Linked DNA regions of Homo sapiens: region 1 is linked to region 2. Evidence: fine-mapped expression QTL. Tissue or cell type: substantia nigra. Region 2 holds a variant in brackets; the other region holds the start of a gene. All regions are shown on one strand. Distances are from middle to middle.

Region 1 (9,311 bases), 34 kb after region 2:
ATATCACAGTGTGTAAACACTGGATATTATACATCTTACAGTGATATTTTATTCATATCACAGTGCGGAAACACTGGATATTATACATATCACAGGGACATTTCATTTGTATCTCTATGTATAAACAGTGGATATTATAAATATCATCGATATTTCATTTATAGCCCTATGTGGAAACACTGGATATTATATATATCACAGCTATATCTCATTTATATCTCTGTGTGGAAACGCTGGATATTATAAATATCACAGCAGGATTTCAACTTTATTCCTGTGTGGGAACAGTGGATATTATAAATATCACAGCGATATTTCATTTATATCCCTTTGTGGAAACACTGGATATTTTAGTATTTCATTCATATCCCTATGTGGAAACACTGGATATTTTAATACTTCATTCATATCCCTGTTTGGAAACACTGGATATTTTAATATTTCATTCATAGCACAGTGCGGAAACACTGCGTAATATAATATTTCATTCATATCCCTGTGTGGAAACACTGAATATTATAATACTTCATTCGTAGCATAGTGTGGAAACACTGGATATTATAATATTTGATTCATAGCACAGTGTGGAAACACTGAATATTATTTCATTCATAGCACAGTTTGGAAACACTGCATAGTATAATATTTCATTCATTGCACAGTTTGGAAACACCGGATATTATAATATTTCATTCATAGCACGGTATGAAAACACTGGATAGTATAATATTTCATTCATAGCACAGTGTGGAAACACTGGATACTATATTTCATACATAGCACAGTGTGGAAACACTGTATATTATAAATGTAACAGCGATATTTCATTAATATCACAGTGTGAAACACTGGATGTCAGTAGTGATATCGATGATGTTACAAACATAACACAGTGTGTTAACACTGCATTATCACCCTGGATGTCAGTAGTAATATCATGGATATTATGAATAATATCACAGGGTGCTAACACAGTGTGTTCACACCCTGGATATCAGTAGTAACATCATAGACATTATGAATAATATCACAGGGTGTTAACACAATGTGTTAACATCTTGGGTATCAGTAGTGGATCAGTATCAGGATATCATCCTGGATATCACAGGGTGATATTATTCATAATATCATGGATATTAATTGTATTAACACCCTGGATATCAATAGTAATACACTGGATATTATGAATAATATCACCGTGTGTTAACAACAGTGGATATCAGTAGTAATATTGTGGATATTAGGAATAATATCACAGTGTGTTAACACAGTGTGTCAACACTGGATATTAGTGATATCATGAAAAATATCACAGTGTGTTAACACTGGACATTAGTAGTAATATCATGAATATTCTGAGTAATATAACAGTGTGTTAACACTGGATATTAGTATTAATATCTAATGTGTGTTAGTAATAATATCACAGATACTATGAATAGTATCACAGTGTGTTAACATAGTGTGTTAACACTGGATATCAGCATTAATATCATGGATATTATGAATAATATGGTATGATAACACAGTGTGCTAACAAACACTGGATATTATGAATATCATAGATAATATTAATATCACAGTGTGCTAACACTGGACACTATGAAGATCATAGATATTAATATCACATTTTGCTAACACAGTGTGCTAACACTGGATATTATGAATATCATATAAATTATTAATATCACAATGTGCTAACACTGTGTTAACACTGGATATTATTATCACGGTGTGCTAACACTGGATATTATTAATATCATTGATATTAACACAACACAGGGTGCAAACACTGGATATTATTATTAGCAAGTCACAGGGTGCTAATACTAGATTTTATTAATATCATATTATTATTAACACATCACAGGGTGCTAACACTTGATATTATTAATATCATAGACATTATTAACACAACACAGGGTGCTAACACTGGATATTTTTAGTATCATAGATATTATTAACATTGCAGTGTGCCAACATTGGAAATTATTAATGTCACAAATATTGGTAATAGCACAGTGTGCTAACACTGGATATTATTAATATCACAGATATTAGTAATATCACAGTGTGTTAATACAGTGTGCTAACACTGGATATCACTAATATGATAGATAATATAGATATTAGTAATATCACAGTGTGTTAACAGTGTGCTAACGCTGGATATTATTAATGTCACAAATATTAGTAATATCACAGTGTGCTAACACTGAATACTATGAATATCATAGATGTTAGTAATACCACAGTGTGCTAACACTGAATATCATTAACATTACAGATATTAGTAATATCACAGTGTGCTACTATTAATATAATAATGTTAATACTATTGACACTATATTAGTAATATAATAGTGTTAACACTGTTATTAATATGAGAGTTAATACTACTAACACTATATTTTTAATATGATAGTGTTAACACTACATTACTAATATGTGTTAACACTATATTATTAATATAATAATGTTAATACTATTAACACTATATTATTAATATAATGGTGTTAGCACTATATTATTAATATAATAGTGTTAACACTATATTATTATTATTATTTGAGACAGAGTCTTGCTCTGTCGCCCAGGCTGGAGTGCAGTGGTGCCATCTCTGCTCACTGCAAGCTCCGCCTCCCAGGTTCACACCATTCTCCTGCCTCAGTCTCCCGAGTAACTGGGACTACAGGCGCCCCCACCACGCCCGGCTAATTTTTTGTATTTTTTAGTAGAGACGGGGTTTCACCGTGTTAGACAGGATGGTCTCGATCTTCTGACCTCGTGATCCGCCTGCCTTGGCCTCCCAAAGGACTGGGATTACAGGCGTGAGCCACCGCGCCCGGCCTAACACTATATTATGAAACACTATATTATTATTATAGTGTAGATACTATTACATTATTAATAGTGTTAACACTATTATCATTAATATAATAGTGTTAATACTATTAACACTTTATTATTATTAATTATAATATTAATATACGAGTGTTATTAATTATTAATATAATTATAATACTGTTAACACTATATTATTAACAATTATTATTAATATAATAGTGTTATTAATATAATATGTGTTAACACTATAATAGTGTTAACACTATATTATATTGTTAATATTATAGTGTTAACACTATTATATGATTAATAGTGTTAATCATGTATTATTAATATAGCAGTGTTAATAGTAACCCTATATTATTAATACAATAGTGTTAATGCTATTAACGCTATATTATTAATATAAGTGTTAACACTCAACACTATATTACTAATATAATAGTGTTAATAGTATATCATTAATATAATAGTGTTAATACTATTAACACCATATTATTAATACTATTATTATTCCCATTTTACAGATTAGAAGCCCAGGACCCAGGAAGGAGACACAGGAAATTTATTCAAAGTCCCCACGCTGGTAATGGCAGAGCTAGGATTTGAATTCAGATCCCTCCCGCTCTCTGTTCCTCCGCCCCCACACACCCGTGAGCGAAGCCGGTACTGTGGGCAGACGCCAGGGCCTGGTTTCCCCACCCTCCACCCGCCAGGTTTGCGGTGGCCGGGGCGGCAGGTAGGGAGGTGAGCCCGCGTCTCCTCCGCAGAGCTGGAGCTGGAGCTCCGCTCAGAGGCCCAGGCTCAGTGGGCTCCTCCCCCGGGTCGGGGCAACCCCCCGCCGGGGCCTCTGGGGCCAACGGAAGCTCCAGGAGCGCGGTGGAGCCTGGAGTGGAGGGCGAGGGTCCCACCGTGACCCGCCTGGAGGGCAGCCCAGCTCTGGGACGCGAAACCGCCTACGACGGTGCCGCAGGTGGAGGGAAGGGTAGAGGGGAGACCAGTATGGGGGAGAGCAAGGTGGCCCCACAGGTTGGGAGAGGATGTGGGGAAGTCCCCCTACCCACCCAAGGCCGAACATCGCCTAACTGGCTGTGGGACGCCCGGGGCAGGGGCTGGGGGCGGATGGCCTGGTTAGGGCCCAGCTTGGGGTCTTGAAAATATCCCTATGGCTTTGGGGCCACAGAAGGGCGGAGTCCTGGCATTCAGGGGAAAGGGCCGAGGACGGTTGTCAACGGGAAGGAACCTCTGACCCTACCCTGGGTCAATGTGCAGTCCAAGTTGCCACAAATGACCGGAGGAAACAGTGGGAAGGGAAGGTCTCTTTCCCATTCCAAACCAGGATGCCCTTCAGGTCGCCCACTTCCTTCATCCCCAGAGCAGCTGCCGACTTTCCTGTTAAGTGCCAGGGCCTGGGAGGTGCGGGGCTGCAGCTCAGGCGCTGAAGGGGGCCTAGGGTCCAGGAACCTCCTGCCAAGCCAGTGGTCCTCAGACGCTGGTCCAGGCACCACCACGGGGTACACAGCTTTTCTTACCTCCTGGTGTTATGGGTCCTTTCTGTTTTTTGAGACGGAGTCTCGCTGTGGCTGTGTCGCCCAGGCTGGAGTGCAGTGGCACGATCTCGCCTCACTGCAAGCTCCGCCTCCCGGGTTCACGCCATTCTCCTGCCTCAGCCTCCTGAGTAGCTGGGACTACAGGCGCCCCCACCACGCCTGGCTAATTTTTTTTTTTTTTTTTTTTTTTGTATTTTTAGTAGAGACGGGGTTTCACCGTGTTAGCTAGGATGGTCTCGATCTCCTGATCTCGTGATCCACCTGCCTCGGCCTCCCAAAGTGCTGGGATTACAGGCGTGAGCCACCGCACCCGGCCCATGGGTCCTTTAAAAAATAATAATTTGGCCAGACGTGGGGCCTCATGCCTGTAATTTCAGCACTTTGGGAGGTAAAGGTGGGAGGATCACTTGAGCCCAGGGGTTGCCTGGGCAACATAGCAAGACCCCATCTCAAAAAAAAAATTAGCCAGGTGTAATGGCATACACCTGTAGTCCCAGCTACTCGGGAGGCTGAGGCAGGAGGATCGCTTGTGCCCAGGAGGCATGAATGCACCACTGCACTCCAGCCTGGGTGACACAAGACCCTGTCTCAAAAAAGAACAACAACAAAAATTTGAATAAAAACCAAACCAGTGACAGTAGATAAGTTGCTTTGTTTTTAATGCTCTTGGCAAAATAAAAAGTTGGCAGTCGTATATTCCCCCATTCTCTCTCTCTTTCTCACACATGCACATGCCTATAAGAAAGCATTCTCTGGATCCACAGAATTCCAGATTTGGGAATCACTGAATTGAACTGCCGGCCATTGGTGGCTGGTGAGACTGTCCTGGCAGTGATGCAGTATTCTGGTCCCTGTGCCAGCACTGATGGGCTGTGGAATCCTCCACCAGTCATTCCCTCTCTCCAGCTCTCCATCTCTGCTTCTGTACAAAAGGATCTACCAATCCCCTCTTATATTCAAATATCTATGACCTTTCAGTCTGGCCTATATCCGTGCGGATCTGAAGTTGTGTATCCGAAGATGTAACCTTGTCCAGTGCTGGCACTAAGGGCTGCTTCAGGGAGGGACCTGGACTGGTGCCCAGGGAAAGGAGGACAAGGTCCTCATCACTGGAGAGTGGAGGGGGCAGTGGGAATGGGACAGATAAGGGGTAGTGCCCTGGGGTATACCTGGCCCCAAAGTAACCCCGGGCTGTGAAGACAAAAGCACTGCATCACATGATGTGTTTCTGTGTCTCTCTCCCTAGCAGTTCCAAGAGCCTCTGAGTTCCTGCCTTTTTTCATCTCTGAATCCCCACCATTGGCCTACATTGGGAGTGGGGCGACCTGTAAGTGCACAGTGAATTTTTGCTGAGGGAGTGGCTGGGAGGGCTGCGTGGAGTGGACAGCACCAAGCTGCACTTTTCAGGGGAGTGGGGTTTGGAAAATCTGGGGAGCAGAACAGGCACCCCCGCCCCCAGGAAGGAACCCAGGTGTATTAGTCTGTTCTCATGCTGCTAATAAAGACATACCCAAGACTGGGTAACTTATAAAGGAAATAGGTTTAATTGACTCGCACCACATGGCTGCAGAGGCCTCACAATCATGGCTGAAGGCGAATGAAGAGCAGAGTCACATCTTTCATGGTGGCTGGCAGGAGAGAGCTTGAGCAGGGGAACTTCCACTTATAAAACCATCAGATCTTGTGAGACTTATTCACTACCACGAGAACCGTATGGGGGAAACTGCCCCCGTGATTCAATTATCTCCACCTGGCCCTGCTCTTGACACATGGGGATTATTACAATGCAAGGTGAGATTTGGGTGGGGACACAGCCAAACCAAATCACCAGGTACAGAGGCCAGAGGAGCCTGGGGATGACGGTGATGTTCCAGGTGTGGAGGGAGACGTGGCAGGCGTGGGGACAGGAAGGTTGGAAGGTTGGGGAACTTTATGAAGGGAAAACTGAGAAGATGAGGAAGGCTGATGAGATGGAAGTGGGGTTGGGGAGAGGGAAGAACCAGCATGAGCTCAAGGCTAGGGTTTGGGTGAAGGAGAGAAAAAAAGGTAGAAAATAAAGGAGACAGAGATCACTTCTAGTCACATACAGGTGGAGATGGGGTAGACAGGAAGAGGTGCCCCCTATCAAATGAGAATGCCCAGTGTACTCCCATCTATACAGAGGACAGGATCAAGATGCAGCCATGACTCCTTCCCATTGAGTTCTAATACTAGAAGGATGCCTCAATGCCCTCTGGTCCAACAGACTTCATCATTTTAGATAGAAGGAAGTGGAAGCCCTGAGGTTGGGGTGACTTGTATGACCTGGAGAGTGGATGGGAGATGGAAAGGGGACATTTAAAGAGAGGGAAGGGCTGGGTGTGGTGGTTCAAGCCTGTAATCCCAACTCTTTGGGAGGCCAAGGCAGGAAGATCACTTAAGCTCAGGAGTTTAAGACACCCTGGGCAACATAGTTAGACCCCTGTCTCTACAAAAAATTAAAAAATTAGCTGGGCGTGGTGGCACGCACCTGTAGTCCCAGCTACTCAGGAGGCTGAGGTGGGAGGATCACTTGTGCCCAGGAGGTTTAGCCTGGGTGACAGAGTGAGACCCTGTATCTAAAAACAAAATATAATAAGGAAAGAAGGGAATAATTCAATTTTTCAAGTGGGAAGAAGAGAAACTAGAGAATGTCAGAAAGGAAGAGAAAGTACAAACATTTTCAAGTCACTCTGACAGCATCGAAGATGAACATGTGTTTACCTGTTTATAACCAGGGTACTTGGGTGTGGGGGGTACAGGAAGGGAGCCACACCTCTGCCCTCTGCCATTAGGCTTGTTCAGCCATAGCCATTGGTAGCTCTCAGAGACGCCCCCTTCCCTGGCTGCAGCAAGTGTCTGCATGGGCAAAGACGCCCCCTTCCCTGGCTGCAGTGAGGGTCTGCATGGGGATTGGGTAGAGGCCCCAGTGTCTGCACTGGGCAAGGTTTGCACAGGGTGTGGGAGCAGGGGAGGAAAGCATGCTCACTTCGAGGGCCTTGTGCTCTCTACTGCCCAGGCACAGCTTGAAAACCGTGATGCTGCCAAGCCCAGCCTGGCACAGGCAAGGGTCCCCAGGTCTGGCTTTGGGTAGGACTTGGAAAGAAAGACTGTCATCTTGGGGTGCACCTCCCTTGTCACATCTTCCTTTCACCTGATGCCCCCTTTCTGCACTGCCAGGTAGCGAGGGTCATCACAGTGCCACCTGGAGGCCTCTGGCCAGGCCCACCCTCCCTGCAGCTCCAATCACCGTCCCTGCTTCCTTCCTTCCCATTGCTGGATAACTCTCATTCCTCAGAGCTGCCAGGCTCAGCACAGACAGAGGGGAAAGCAGATTCGTTGAAACAATTTGTCCTGAAGTTGGGTGTGGCCTCCAGCCCCTTCTCCCACAGGGATATCTGAATTTTAGAAGTCTGCCCTCCATCCCTGCCCTCCCAACTTTAACCAAGCACCTGAGTGCTCAGCACTGTGTTGGACACTTTGGTATGCGTTATTTCATTTGGTCCTCTCAGTGGCAGGTGTTGTATTCTTATCATTGGGCAGGTGTTATAATATATCCTTCCTTATCCTTAGGCAGGTGTTATATCCTTCCTTTTCCAGATGGGGAAAGCAAGGTCCTGAGACTCTGAGCAACTTCCCCAAGATCACACAGCTAGGAAGTGATGAAGCTGAGACAAGACCAGCCAGCACTTACCCACCACGGTGTAACTACTCATTCAAAAGATGACATCTTTTGAAAATTTTTATTCTTTCAGAGACAAGGTCTTGCTTTGTTGCCCAGGCTGGAGTACGGCGGCATGATCATAGCTCACTGCAGTCTCTAACTCCTGGGCTCAAGAGTTCCTCCTGCCTCATCCTCCCAAGTAGCTGGGAACTACAGACAGGCACATGCCCCCAGCCTGGCTAATTTTTAACAATTTCTTGTGGAGACTGGTCTGACTGTGTTGCCTAGGCTGGTCTCAAAACTCCTGAGTTCATGCGATCCTCCCACCACAGCCTTCCAAAATGCTGGGATTATAGGCATGAGCCACCAGTGACTGGCCACAAAAGGAGACATCTTAGTGACAGATGGTGATGAAAGAGAAGATGGGTTTGGGGGAGGAACTCCACGTGATAGGGATCCTTCACTGAGGGCCCAGGCTGCAGGAGGCTCTATGAAACACCAGAACTCTTTGTAAAACTTCCTGTTTGTACATGACCTGCTCATTTCTCAGCAGGGGCTCCTCCTGTGCACATGGACCTCTCCCCACCTAAACCCACAGTTCCTGTGGTCAGAAGGCCAGTCACTGAATAAGGGCACCTAAGGCTCTGGTCTGAATATCTCCCCTTGGTTCTCAGTCTGAAATCCCAAAAGGAAGACAGTTGACTGCAAAATAGGCTGGAGTTGTCCTGATGGCCAGTAGAGGTGGCTGTTGATAGAATTGAAAGCTTAGGGCCAGGCATGGTGGCTCACACCTGCAGTCCCAGCACCTTGGGAGGCTGAGGCGGGTGGATCACCTGAGGTCAGGAGTTCGAGACCAGCCTGGCCAACATGGTGAAACGCTGTCTCTACTAAAAATACAAAAATTAGCTGGGCGTGGTGGCGGGCGCCTGTAATCTCAGCTACTCAGGAGGCTGAGGCAGGAGTATTGCTGGAACCTGGGAGGCAGAGGTTGCAGTGAGCTGAGATGGTGCCATTGCACTCCAGCCTGGGCTGACAACAGCGAGACTCCATCTTAAAAAAAAAAAAAAAGAATTGAAAGCTTAGAACTTTAGTTTTTTTCTTTTTTTTAAATTATTTAATTTTTTTTTTTGTTTTTTTTTGAGACAAGGTCTTGCTCTGTCACCCAGGCTGGAGGGCAGTGGTGTGATCATGGTTCACTGCAGCCTTGACCTTCCTGGGCTTAGGCGATCCTC
Region 2 (11,832 bases):
TCATAACTAGCATTTTTCTCTGGGCACCAACTTGAGCCTCCAAAGACGATTGTAAATTTTAAATATTTTGTTTTGTTTATTTGAGGTGGGCTGTCACGCTGTCATACAGGCTGGAATGCAGTGGCGCAGTCATAGCTCACTGCAGCCTCTACCTCCCAAGCTCAAGCGATTCTCCTGCCTTGGCCTTTGGAGTAGCTGGAACTACAGGCCTGGGCCACCTAATTTTTTTTTTTTTTTTTTTTTTTGTAGGGACGGGGTTTCACCATGTTGTCCAGGACGGTCTGGAACTCCTGAGCTTAAGGGATCCACCCGTCTGTGCCTCCCAAACTGTTGGGATTACAGGCTTGAGCCACCGCACGTGGCCAATTTTAAATATTTTAAAGTTTCCACAGAAAGCTTTACACTATTAAATTGTACCGTGTTAATTTTTTTAATGCCACAAATTCCAAATTAGAGACTCTTCTATGATTTGGTTCTTAAGTATTTAAAGCTGAAGCATATCCATATTTCTTTTTCTTTTTTTTCTTTTTTTTTTTTTTGGGACGGAGTCTCACTGTGTTGCCCAGGTTGGAGTGCAGTGGTGCAATCTTGGCTCACTGCCACGTATGCCTTCTGTATTCAAGCAATTCTCCTGCCTCAGCCTCCCGAATAGCTGGGATTACAGACCCGCACCACCACGCTGGCTAATTTTTGTATTTTTAGTAGAGAAGAAGTTGCACCATGTTGATCAGGCTGGTCTTGAACTCCTGACCTCAAGTGATCTTCCCGCCTCAGCCTCCCAAAGTGCTGGGATTACAGGCCACTGCGCCTGGCCCCATTTTTCTGTTACTTATTTAGGGTGGTTAATCATTATCAACTAATTTTTATTGAATATCCATAGTGTGTAAGATCCTTTGCAAAGTCCTGACGATATAAAATGATGAAATGCTTTAACTTATTACAGTAATTTCTCTTAATCTTACCTTGCAGTGATGGTCATTGTCCTCCAGAGCAGTGATGGAGGAAATACCAGCCCAGGAAGCAGCAGGGTCACCAAGGGTCCAGTTTCAGTCTTTGGAGACCCAGTCTGAGTGTCTGTCCCCAGAGCCTCAGTTTGTGCAGGACACCGACATGGAACAGGGACTCACTGGGGGTAAGGCAGAGAAAGCACTTCCGTCTGGGAGAGTGGGAGTGCGGAGGGGCTCCCGAGGGGGCTCCTGGGCCTGGTTTGAGAGAGGCCAAGAACTGGAATAAGAACATGGTCCCTAGAGGGAGGAATGAAAGAGGGGGCAGATGTGACTCAGTTCAGTCCTAGTCTGAGCCCCTTTATTAAGGATAGCTCATCTTTCTCAAATAAGCAGAGTGATGGCTGCTTACTCGCTGTGGTGGTTTTTCCTTCAGGCAACCTTCACTTCATCCCAGTTCTCACATCCAGAATAATTTCTAAGATATGCTGCTTTTGCCACATCTCACAGTCCTTTCCTGGCTCTCACTTCCTCTTAGGTTCAGGACCTTTCTTTCCCCTGTTCCCTTCACTTAGTTTTTCTTTGCTTTGTCACCTGCCATCCATTCTGTTGTAACTGCAGTGTTTTGTGACTAGACTAAATTTGGTCAAGGAAGCAACCATTTAATTCCTTGGTTGAACACAATGCCTGTATGAATGTATATATACTGTATTTTGACTACGCAGTCACACTTTGCTGTATCGTATAGGTAGGTTGGTCTTTTTCTTCCTTTGTTTTATAAGAGCTGTGTCTTAGATTGCCTGTGGTTAACTCTAGTGCCTGAAATAACTTGTGTGTCACCCACACAGATCAAGTGCCACAATGTGTAGAGTGCTGTGGGGGATTGTGGGACTGTGGAAAAGATTTCGAGGAAACAGATGACCCTTTCTTGTTCTTGGGGGCCTTACACACTGGTTGAGACAGCACCCATTCACAAGAGAAACGCTGATCAAGTGTCTAGAACAGTGCCTGGAAAGGGTCAGAAGTCTGCTAAATAACCCTAGCCCAGGACAAGTCCCCACAAGTCTTTATGCTTTGCTTTGCCCATCTGCAAAACAGGTATAGTCTTACTCTTCTGTAAGAGGACTGTCATGTGATGAAGATAAAGTGAAATACAAGCTTTCCTAAGAAAATCCTGTATCACAGGTCAAAACACGCATAAGGCATGCAAGTACTGAGACGAAGCAGAGTAGACACACCCAATACCTGAAAAATGTTCATTGGTTTTACTAGAGTATTGAGGAGGGTCCTGCTGACACCCCTTGGGCTGGAGAGGCCTCCTCTGAAAGGGAGCCCTGGGAAAGGGCTGCTCTCACTCTTCACTCCTTTCTCCTCCCTCAGCTCCACCTGTTCCTCAGGTGCCTGCTCTTCCCCGTGAGGGAAGCCCAGGAGACCAGGCAGCTGCGCTCTTGACAGCCAGGTACCAGGTGAGCTGAGGAACCCTCTGCTTTTCCTCAGGGACTATTGCTACTGATGGAGTGTGGCCTCTCTCTCATCCCATCTGTAGACCTTGCCTGGAATTTTTTTCAATAGCAGACTCCAGTTTGGGAATTGATCCTCTTCGGAGACCTGGACTTCACATAAACCAACTTCCCATCTCCCCAGTGCCATGAGCAAACTCTGTTTTCTCTTTGTCCATGGTTGTGTGATGGGTGCTTATTAGATGTTTAAGGGTTATGGGCTTTATTCCGTAGGTTCTAATCTGTTCTCCCTCCTCCTCAACGTAAGTACACAGTGGATACCCTCTCTATGATCTTCATTCTCTGGCCATGGTGCTACAGTGTTCTCATTCCTCAGAGCAGCCAGGATGTGTTATTTCAGGAGTTTGTGACATTCGAGGATGTGGCTGTGCACCTTACTCGAGAGGAATGGGGATACCTGGACCCTGTTCAGAGGGACCTCTACAGAGAAGTGATGTTAGAGAATTATGGGAACGTGGTCTCACTGGGTAAGGACTTCCTTATTATTCGGTTTATCTATTTGAATTTCTTTACTTTCTTGTTTCTTCCTAAGTATAAGGTCTCTGAGAAGGTCTGTAGAGTGTGGCTTAGATTCCAGGACTTAGAACCTCTGAATCCTTATCTTTCACATCGTCTTCTCCGGGAGGGGTAATTAACGTTTGTTTGGGGGTGCCAAGAAGAGACATTCTCCTCCTTATCCCCAGTTCATGTTTATGGCCATTGTGGGGCATCTTTTCCCTTTTAGCAAAGGGAAACTTTCTTGTGCTTTGCTTGATTTCTCACCGTTCTTTTCTTTTCCATTTTTGTAGGAGAGACCCCAGGGTGGCCTCCCAACCTCCAACCAGACACTTTCCTCTTTGTTATCTCAGTGTCCCTGTATTAGAGAATTGAAGAATTTCCCATTTTTCTAGGAAAAAGAAATGCCGTTTATTTAAAAAGACAGGCTAAATTCCTTCTTGTTGAGTAGTCCCTCACCCCTTAAGATCCCCAGATGTATCTCCAAGCAGGCAGAACTTGAGATGTCATTTGAAGGCATGACTCACTGTGAGTACATTTCAGTGAGTCACCCAGAATGGTAATCCCACGTAACCACACCCAGGGCAGCAGAAATCTCAGATGTTTACCCCATGCTGAGGTGGGGTCAATGCTTAACTCATGTCTCTCCCTTGTCATTTTGAAAGGTACAGTGGGAAGCTGGGATTAGCCAAGCTGTAGTGCTGCTGGGAAGCATCAGTGGGGTTTGTCGGCAGCTCCCTTGGTGTGAGCATTGTTCCTTTTTCTTTAGTTTATTTTTTATATTATATTATATTTTTTATTTTATTTTATTTTTAGATGGAGTTTCACTCTTGTTGCCCAGGCTGGAGTGCAGTGGTGCAATCTCAACTCACTACAACCTCTGCCTTCCAGGTTCAAGCGATTCTCCTGCCTCAGCCTCCCAAGTAGCTGGGATTACAGGCATGGGCCACCACGCCCGCCTAATTTTGTATTTTTAGTAGAGACGGGGTTTCACCATGCTGGTCAGGCTGATCTCGAACTCTTGACCTCAAGTGATCCACCTTCCTTGGCCTCCCAAAGTGCTGGAATTACAGGCATGAGCCACCGCACCCAGCCTCCTTTTTCTTTAGTTTCTTGCTTGCTTCTGCACTCTTCTTTTTGTGTGTGTAAATACTGAATCATGCATTTTCTTTTCTTTTTTTTTTTTCCGTTGGCTTTGTCTATGCTGGTGGCATCCAGGGCATTGCTTTGTCTCCCTGATTATGCTCAGGATTCAAGGTCTTCTTATTTGTGGGGAGGCAGGCTGCCCACTGGGACGGTTTTTAGTGTGTTTTCCATTCCTGGCTCTTTAATCTTTGTAGGCATACTTCTCCGCCTTCCCACCACCCGGATTCATAGTGTGAATTCCTGCCCGGCCCTGAGTCATACCCAGGCAAGTGCTTTCTCTGGAGAAACACTTGCCGTCCTTACAGCAGGAATCTCCAAGAGATGGCCCAAGTATCGGCTTCCCATCGATATTGCTCGTCCCTGCTCGGAAACTCCTTTTCCACGATTGTGAGATATTAAAATTGACTGATGGAATAGAAGCTCCCCAGGATGCCACCACTGTGTAAAATCGCAGCTCCTCAAATTACCTCTGTTTAATTTCAAATGTTAGGGTCCAAGGAAGCCCTCTGTTGCAACCAGATATGTTTTGAACCCAGTTCATTCAGAAACCATGGTTGGTGGTCATCATCTACTTGTATTGTGAAAAACCAGAAATTCCAAATTCAGCTCTTCAGTTATGGTCTTTTCATATTATTTTAGAATGTGAAACTTATGCTGTGTGCCCCTCCTTTTATGTGGCGAACACAACCTGCCCCGTATGGTGCCTAACTCTCCTGTGAACCCTGGGCTTCCCTCATGTTTAACATTCTGGTTTCCTCCTTCCTTGAAGTCCCTGTGGCCCTCTTCAAGGTCCTACCTTCCTACCCTTTATTCTTTGTGGTTCTGTACAGATTGATGCAATTATATTGCCTTTCCTGATTAAGTGTTCCTTACTCTGTCCTTGATGGAGGGGAGAAGGGAGGGCAAAGAAGTTAAATTTATTTCAGGGCATCAAATTGAATATCTACTTAATAACTTTGTAAACTGTAAAGTGACATACATATAATTGTAAAGTACTGTTAATTTTATCTAATAATTACAGAGTTTCCAACAGTTAACCTGTCTACTTTTTGGAGTAAAGAAACTTTGTAGCAGTTTAATGCAGTCTAATAGCATAGTATGCTATAGACTGAACTTTATCCCATTTCCTCTCTTATCTCTGCACTGCACACTCGACATGCAGTCGACATGCATACACACTTTTACACATACAAGAGACACGCACAGTGCAAGAAAGCCTTCTACTCATCTTGCTTTTGTGATCAAGTTAGCAGCATCTCCTTAGCAGTTATTTTTACAATCCTTGGGAAATCATTTTCATATTTTTGGGTTCAGCAGACTTCATCTGAAAATTAACCCATTTATGCCTAGTGTTCCATTATTGGAACACTAAGCTTGCGGGAATTATTTATGTCC[C/T]GCTGCTCAAGGTCATCGCCAAGGTCTGATTTTTAACAAAAATTGCAACCTCCAGCATAACTGGGTTAAGTTTATACATTTATTAATTTAACTTTTTAGGGTTGTAAGACTTTTTTTTTTTTTGAGACGGAGTCTTGCTCTGTTGCCCAGGCTGGAGTGCAGTGGCACCATCTCTGCTCACCGCAAGCTCCACCTCCCGGCTTCATGCCATTCTCCTGCCTCAGCCTCCCAAGTAGCTGGGACTACAGATGCTCGCCACCATGCCTGGCTAATCTTTTCGTATTTTTAGTAGAGATGGGGTTTTGCCATCTTAGCCAGGATGGTCTCGATCTCCTGACCTCGTGATCCGCCTGTCTCGGCCTCCCAAAGTGCTGGGATTACAGGTTGTGAGCCACTGCGCCTGGCCTCCAGATTGTATTTGTCACAGACATTAGAACGTTGGTCCTTTGCTTAAGTGCTTCCACTATGCAGCAGTAAATATACAGAGTACAAATAGCTGAGTAAAGAAGTCGGTAATAAGTAATTTTCGTTACCACATAATTGAAAAAAGAACATACTCCATTGATGATGAATGAACAATTTGCCTCTGGGTCACTATCCATAGGGAAGTTACCTGTTACTTAGTGTGGTAGATTAAGACCCATAAAGGGGACCGAGTTGCTTTTCACATGGGTAAGTGTGGCAGGTGCCCTATTAGATGATGGCCTCAGAAGCATGCTTGTTAAAATTCTAATTGATATTAACTGGGTCAGTAGATTGGGAATGTTTGGCACATACTCTCTGCTTTTTTAACTTGATGTCATGAAGGACTACAGTTATTTTGCACAGAATGTTTTCCATTGTCACAGCTATTTAGTATTTATTGAGCAGCCAATATGTTATTGGGTACTATATATATGTATGTATACACACACACACACATATGTATATACACACACACAGACATAGGACATTTATATGTGTGTGTGTGTGTGTGTGTATATATATATATAAAGGATATGTGTATATATCTCATTTAATCCTTACCATAACCCTGTGAGCAGATGACACTGCTCCTATTTTATATCTGAGGAAACTGAGGCTCAGAGAAGTTAAGTGATCTTTGCAGGATCAGTGAGAGGCTTGGGACCCAGATCTGCCTCTGAAGCCCCTGCACTTTTTCACTACTTTGTGCCCTTAGGACAATAAGTTCAACTACACATGGAGTTTTTAATATTTTTAGTGAGTTGTGTGTACTCTGATGACAAGAAAAATTCAAAATGCCATGACAAATTGGACAGACAGGCCAGTATATAGTTTGGGACCAGAAAGGACATGCATTCAAAAAGTAAAACTCTCTAGGGACACATTCCAGTCCAACAGGTATCTACAAAAGAATGATATTGCTAAGGAGAGATATTATTTGTGTATTAAGGACCAGGAAGAAAAGCGTGAAGCTTTCAGATGGCTAAAAGCATAGCCGTAGTAAAAGCAGCAAACCATATGATAAGGCAAATTTTAAATATTATTTTTGAGGCAGGGTCCCCTCTTGTTGCCCAGGCTAGAATACAGTGGCATGATAACAGCTCACTGCAGCCTGGACTTCCCTCCAGGCTCAGGTGATCCTCCTACCTCAGCCTTCTGGGTAGCTGGGACTATAGGCCTGTACCATCATGCTAATTTTTTTCTATTTTTAGTAAAGAAGGTGTTTCGCTATGTTACCCAGGCTGTTGAACTCCTGGGCTCAAGTGATCTGCATGCCTCAGCTCCCCAGAGTCCTGGGATTACACATGTGAGCCAACACCATGCTCAGCTTTAACTGTTATTTTTGAAGACCAGATTAAAATAAATTTTATTAGAAAACTCTCAAGATTTAAATAAAATAATTTTTTTTTTGGAGACAGTCTTGCTCTGTCGCTCAGGCTGGAGTGTGGTGGCACAATGTCAGCTCACTGCAACCTCCGCCTCTCAGGCCCAAGCCATTCTTGTGCCTCAGCCTCCAGAGTAGCTGGGACTACAGGCATGCACCACCATACCCAGCTAATTTTTGTATTTTTAGTAGAGATGGGGTTTTGCCATGTTGGCCAGGCTGGTCTTGAACTCTTGGCCTCATGTGTTCCACATCCAGCCTTAAAATCAAAAGGTTTTAATAACTTAATTTTAAACGGAAAAAATGTAAAGCAAGTGCATATTTTGAAAGCATAGAGTCGGCCAGGTGCTGTGGCTCACACATGTAATCCCAGCACTTTGGGAGGCCAAGGCAGGCGGATCACCTGAGGTTGGGAGTTCGAGACCAGCCTGACCAACATGGAGAAACCCCGTCTCTACTAAAAATACAAAATTAGCCGGGCATGGTGGCGCATGCCTGTAATCCCAGCTACTCTGGAGGCTGAGGCAGGAGAATCACTTGAACCCAGGAGGTGGAGTTGAGGTGAGCCGAGATCGTGCCATTGCACTCCAGCCTGGGTGACAGAGTGCAACTCCGTCTCAAAAAAAAAAAAAAAGCATTCACGTCAATGTCAAGAGAACCTGCTACTAATGCTTTCTTTGATAGGCAGTATGATAGGTTGGAAAGAATATAAACTGGGATCAAGCTTGGGTTCCACTTACCAGCTGTAGTATGTTGAGCAAATTATTTAATCTGACACTCATTTTCTTGGTTTATAAAACATGAAAAATAATGTCTACCTTCTGGGTACAGGATTGAATTAGATTATGCATATAAGTACCTGGCTTGTGTCGGGTGCGGTGGCTCACGCCTGTAATCCAGCACTTTGGGAGGGTGAGGTGGGCGGATCACAAGGTCAGGAGTTCGAGACCAGCCTGACCAACATGGTGAAACCCCGTCTCTACTAAAAATACAAAAATTAGCTGGGCATGGTGGTACATGCCTGTGATTGCAGCTACCCAGGAGGCTGAGGCTGGAGAATCGCTTGAACCCGGGAGGTGGAGGTTGCAGTGAGCCAAGATCATGCCATTGCACTCCAGCCTGGGCGACAGAGCGAGACTCCATACCCCCCGGCCAAAAAAAAAAAAAAAAAATTAAGTACCTGCCTTGTGCTAGTTACTTTAATATTTTGGAAAGAATAGCAAGCGATATGAGCCATAGACCAGATTTTTTAATACAAATAAAAATTTCAGGAGTGTGTTCAAATTATTTATTTATAGTGGAGTTTCCTCAAATTTATTATTGTTTGGACTATTGTCTAGGGATTTGGATTTTTTTTTTTTTTTTTGAAATGGAGTCTCCCAGGCTGGAGTGTAGTGGCGTGATCTCGGCTCACTGCAACCTCTGCCTCCCGGGTTCAAGCGATTCTCCTTCCTCAGTCTCTCGAGTGGCTGGGACTACAGGCACCCGCCATCACGCCCGGCTAATTTTTGGTATTTTTAGTAGAGACAGGGTTTCACCGTGTTAGCCAGGATGGTCTCGATCTCCTGACCTTGTGATCTGCCTGCCTTGGCCTCCCAAAGTGCTAGGATTACAGGCGCGAGCCACCGTGCCTGGCTGGGGTTTGGATTTTTATTGTAAAGGATTTCCATTTCCTTGATAATAAATCATCTTTTAGATCCCTTTTAATTTTTAATTTTAATTTTTTGTAGAGATGGAGTCTCACTATGTTCCCCAAGCAGGTCTCAAATTCCTGAGCTCATGAGATCCTCCTGCCTTGACCTCTCAAAGTGCTGGGATTACACGTGTGAGCCACCATGCCTGGTCCATAGATCCTCTTGATTCGTTTGTTGGTTGATTGACTGACTGACTGACTGACAGGATCTCACTCTCACCCAGGCTGGAGTACAGTGGTGTGATCTTGGCTCTCTGCAGCCTCGGCCTTCTGAGCTCAAGCGATCATTCTGCCTCTGCCTCCCAAGTAGCTGGGACTACAGGCGTGTGCCACCATGCCTGGCTAATTTTTGTATTTTTTGTAGAGGTGGGATCTCACTATGTTGCCCAGGCTGGTCTCAGACTCTTGGGCTGAAGTGATCTGTCCGTCATGGCCTCCCAAAGTGCTGGGATTACAGGTGTGAGCTTCTGTGCCCAGCCATAGATCCCTTTTAATTAACACTTCTGCGACTCCAATTATTTAGGATCCTGGTTCACCGTATGTTATTCTAATCACTTTTTCTCTGTTGTTTGTATTTACCTTTTACTTCACTGTCAATATTTTATAAATCATATTAGAAAACTCAAGATTTAAATAAAATCAAAAAGTTTTAATACATTAATTTTAAACAGGAAAAATGTAAATAAAGCAAGTGCATATTTTGAAAGCAAAGTTTTGAGTTAAATTTAGGAAATAGGCATTTAGGCTAGTGCCAAGAAAACTTACACGTTCTTTCTGTGTGTAATTTGGAGGAAGGGATGGATTTTGTTCACAGTCATTATTTATTTTTTTTCAGGGCTTGTTAGGAGGCAAAATCATAATTTTTTTTTTACTAGCAGATTGTTTAAAGGCTAGGTTCTGAAATAAGACTGTGCAGGTTTGAAAACTAAGCATTACCAGTTATTGTAACCTTGGGCAAGCTACTTAACCACTCTGAATCTTAGTATTCCCATCTGTAAAATGGCTATAATAATAGTTTCTACGTTTTAAATTTATGGTATTAAATGAGTGAAAACCTAGAGAGCTCTTGGCATGGTACTTTGCACCTACCAAGTACTTAGTAAAACTTAATAATATTTTGATGGTACTGATGATACCCTGTTCTCTCTTCTAAACTGTGATATTGTATCTTTACCTGCTAGGCATTTTCTCTTTTAAAAAAAATTATTTCAGTAGTTTTGGGGGCGTACAAGTGGTTTTTTGTTACATGGATGAATTCTAATACATAGTGGTGAATTCTGAGATTTTAGTGCACCTGTCACTGGAATAGTGTACATTGTACCTAATATATAGTTTTTTATCCCTTGTCCCTTCTCCCACCCTTTCCCTTCTTAGTCTCTGAAGTCCATTTTATCACTCTGTATGCCTTTGCGTACTCATCTGCTGGGCATTTTCTCTTATACCTTCGTACATTACATTAAACACACATCTAAAATCAAACCCCTCATCCCACATGAAGACCACCTTTTTTGTTGTGCATATGTGTTTTAAGTGTAGATATGGAGTAAGCAGCCAGAATTTATTTCAGTTACCAAATATCGACAGACACTTTAAATATCTCAGAGTTAAAAGTTGCAAATTATGTTATTGGAATTCTGAGAACAATATTGATTGCTGCTTCATGTTACACTAACTTTACTTTTTAAACTTCTGAAACGATTTCATTTGACAGGGTGGACCTTAATTAAATATATGTCCACAAGGAGAGTTGACTCTAAATGTCCCACAGGATTTCAGAAACACAGTAAATACCTTTCTTCTATCTATTCTGATCTCCTTGCTCATAGGCTCTCACATGGAATCTTTGGGGCAGCTGTCAGTTCTTCATATTTTCCAGCCCCAATGCCCTTTTTATAAAATTGGGTAGCTGTTAATACATTGATACTTGGGCGCACAGAGTTGGCACTCAATAAGTAGCCGTTAAGTAAATTAATCAAAAGAATTGCAAGATACAAGATACCTGGTCCCTTCTATCAAAGAGTTTATAAATCAAGTATGAATGACAATACCTGAAACCACTTAAAAAAAAATCTATGTAAACACCGTTATATGTGACATGTCAGGATAAGAGGGAACAACTAATAAATTTTGTACACATTCAGTAAATGGAGAGAAAGGTTTTTGGAGATGAGGGGCTTGAGCCAGACCTTGTATGTGTGCTATTAGAAGCTTTCTGGGCTGGACACATTTAAAAACTGCCCTTTGATACTAATAGTATTAAAATTCTGTCTCCTTGGAAGCAGACTGCCTGTTGCTTTAGCTTTAAAAGAGATTTATATCCAAGCATTGCATTATGCAAGCCATAGAAAGACTGTTTTATGTGAAGATGCACTGATTGCACTTCCCTCTCTATATTTTATTGTAGTTAGTTGTTTAGAGCTGTCTCTGTGTAGAGTGTGAGGTCCTTGAGGGAAGGGACCTTCTTGGCCTCTTATCCCCTGCATACTTTGCATAGAGGAGGCACTTCATAAATGTTTGTTGAATAAATGCTACACTCCTAATGGGTAAGAATGTGTCATATTACTCTTTGTTTTCTTATGTGTACTGAAACAAATTGTTTCTTGAGATTGGTCCTTAGAATATTTATTCAGTTTTCACTGATTCTCTTGCTACAGGTTAGCTAACCATGCAGCAGGTGCTTGAGTTTCACCTTTCTCCAGTCCAGCAGAATTACATTTTGATGACCTCCATTTTGATACTTGTAGACCAGATCTAATCCGAAGATTAATCTTTAGGTAACAGATGGAGAGT

Alleles and levels. Positions count from the first base shown, and alleles are read on the strand shown. Sizes are in standard deviations (SD) of each study's normalised expression.
For the expression in substantia nigra of the gene that starts at base 3,706 in region 1, C is the high allele of the variant in region 2 and T is the other (moderate effect, 0.58 SD a copy in GTEx).

Evidence for each region. PIP is the estimated chance that this variant, and not a neighbour inherited with it, causes the effect.
Region 1: TMEM225B starts here. The variant in region 2 is the best candidate, but not a certain one, in a credible set for the expression of TMEM225B in substantia nigra (GTEx, PIP 0.73).

The regions. Positions count from the first base shown.
Region 1 is chr7:99,594,562-99,603,872 of GRCh38, forward strand. TMEM225B (transmembrane protein 225B) reads left to right here and starts at 3,706. Exons shown (of 6, transcript NM_001195541.3): 1 at 3,706-3,820; 2 at 5,644-5,724.
Region 2 is chr7:99,559,564-99,571,395 of GRCh38, forward strand. It overlaps ZNF655 (zinc finger protein 655), which reads left to right. Exons shown (of 3, transcript NM_138494.3): 2 at 970-1,132. The coding sequence starts at 997. Among named protein-coding and RNA genes, the nearest start is that of ZNF655, 6.8 kb to the left of the region's middle. The variant C/T (reference allele first, on the strand shown) is at 5,501.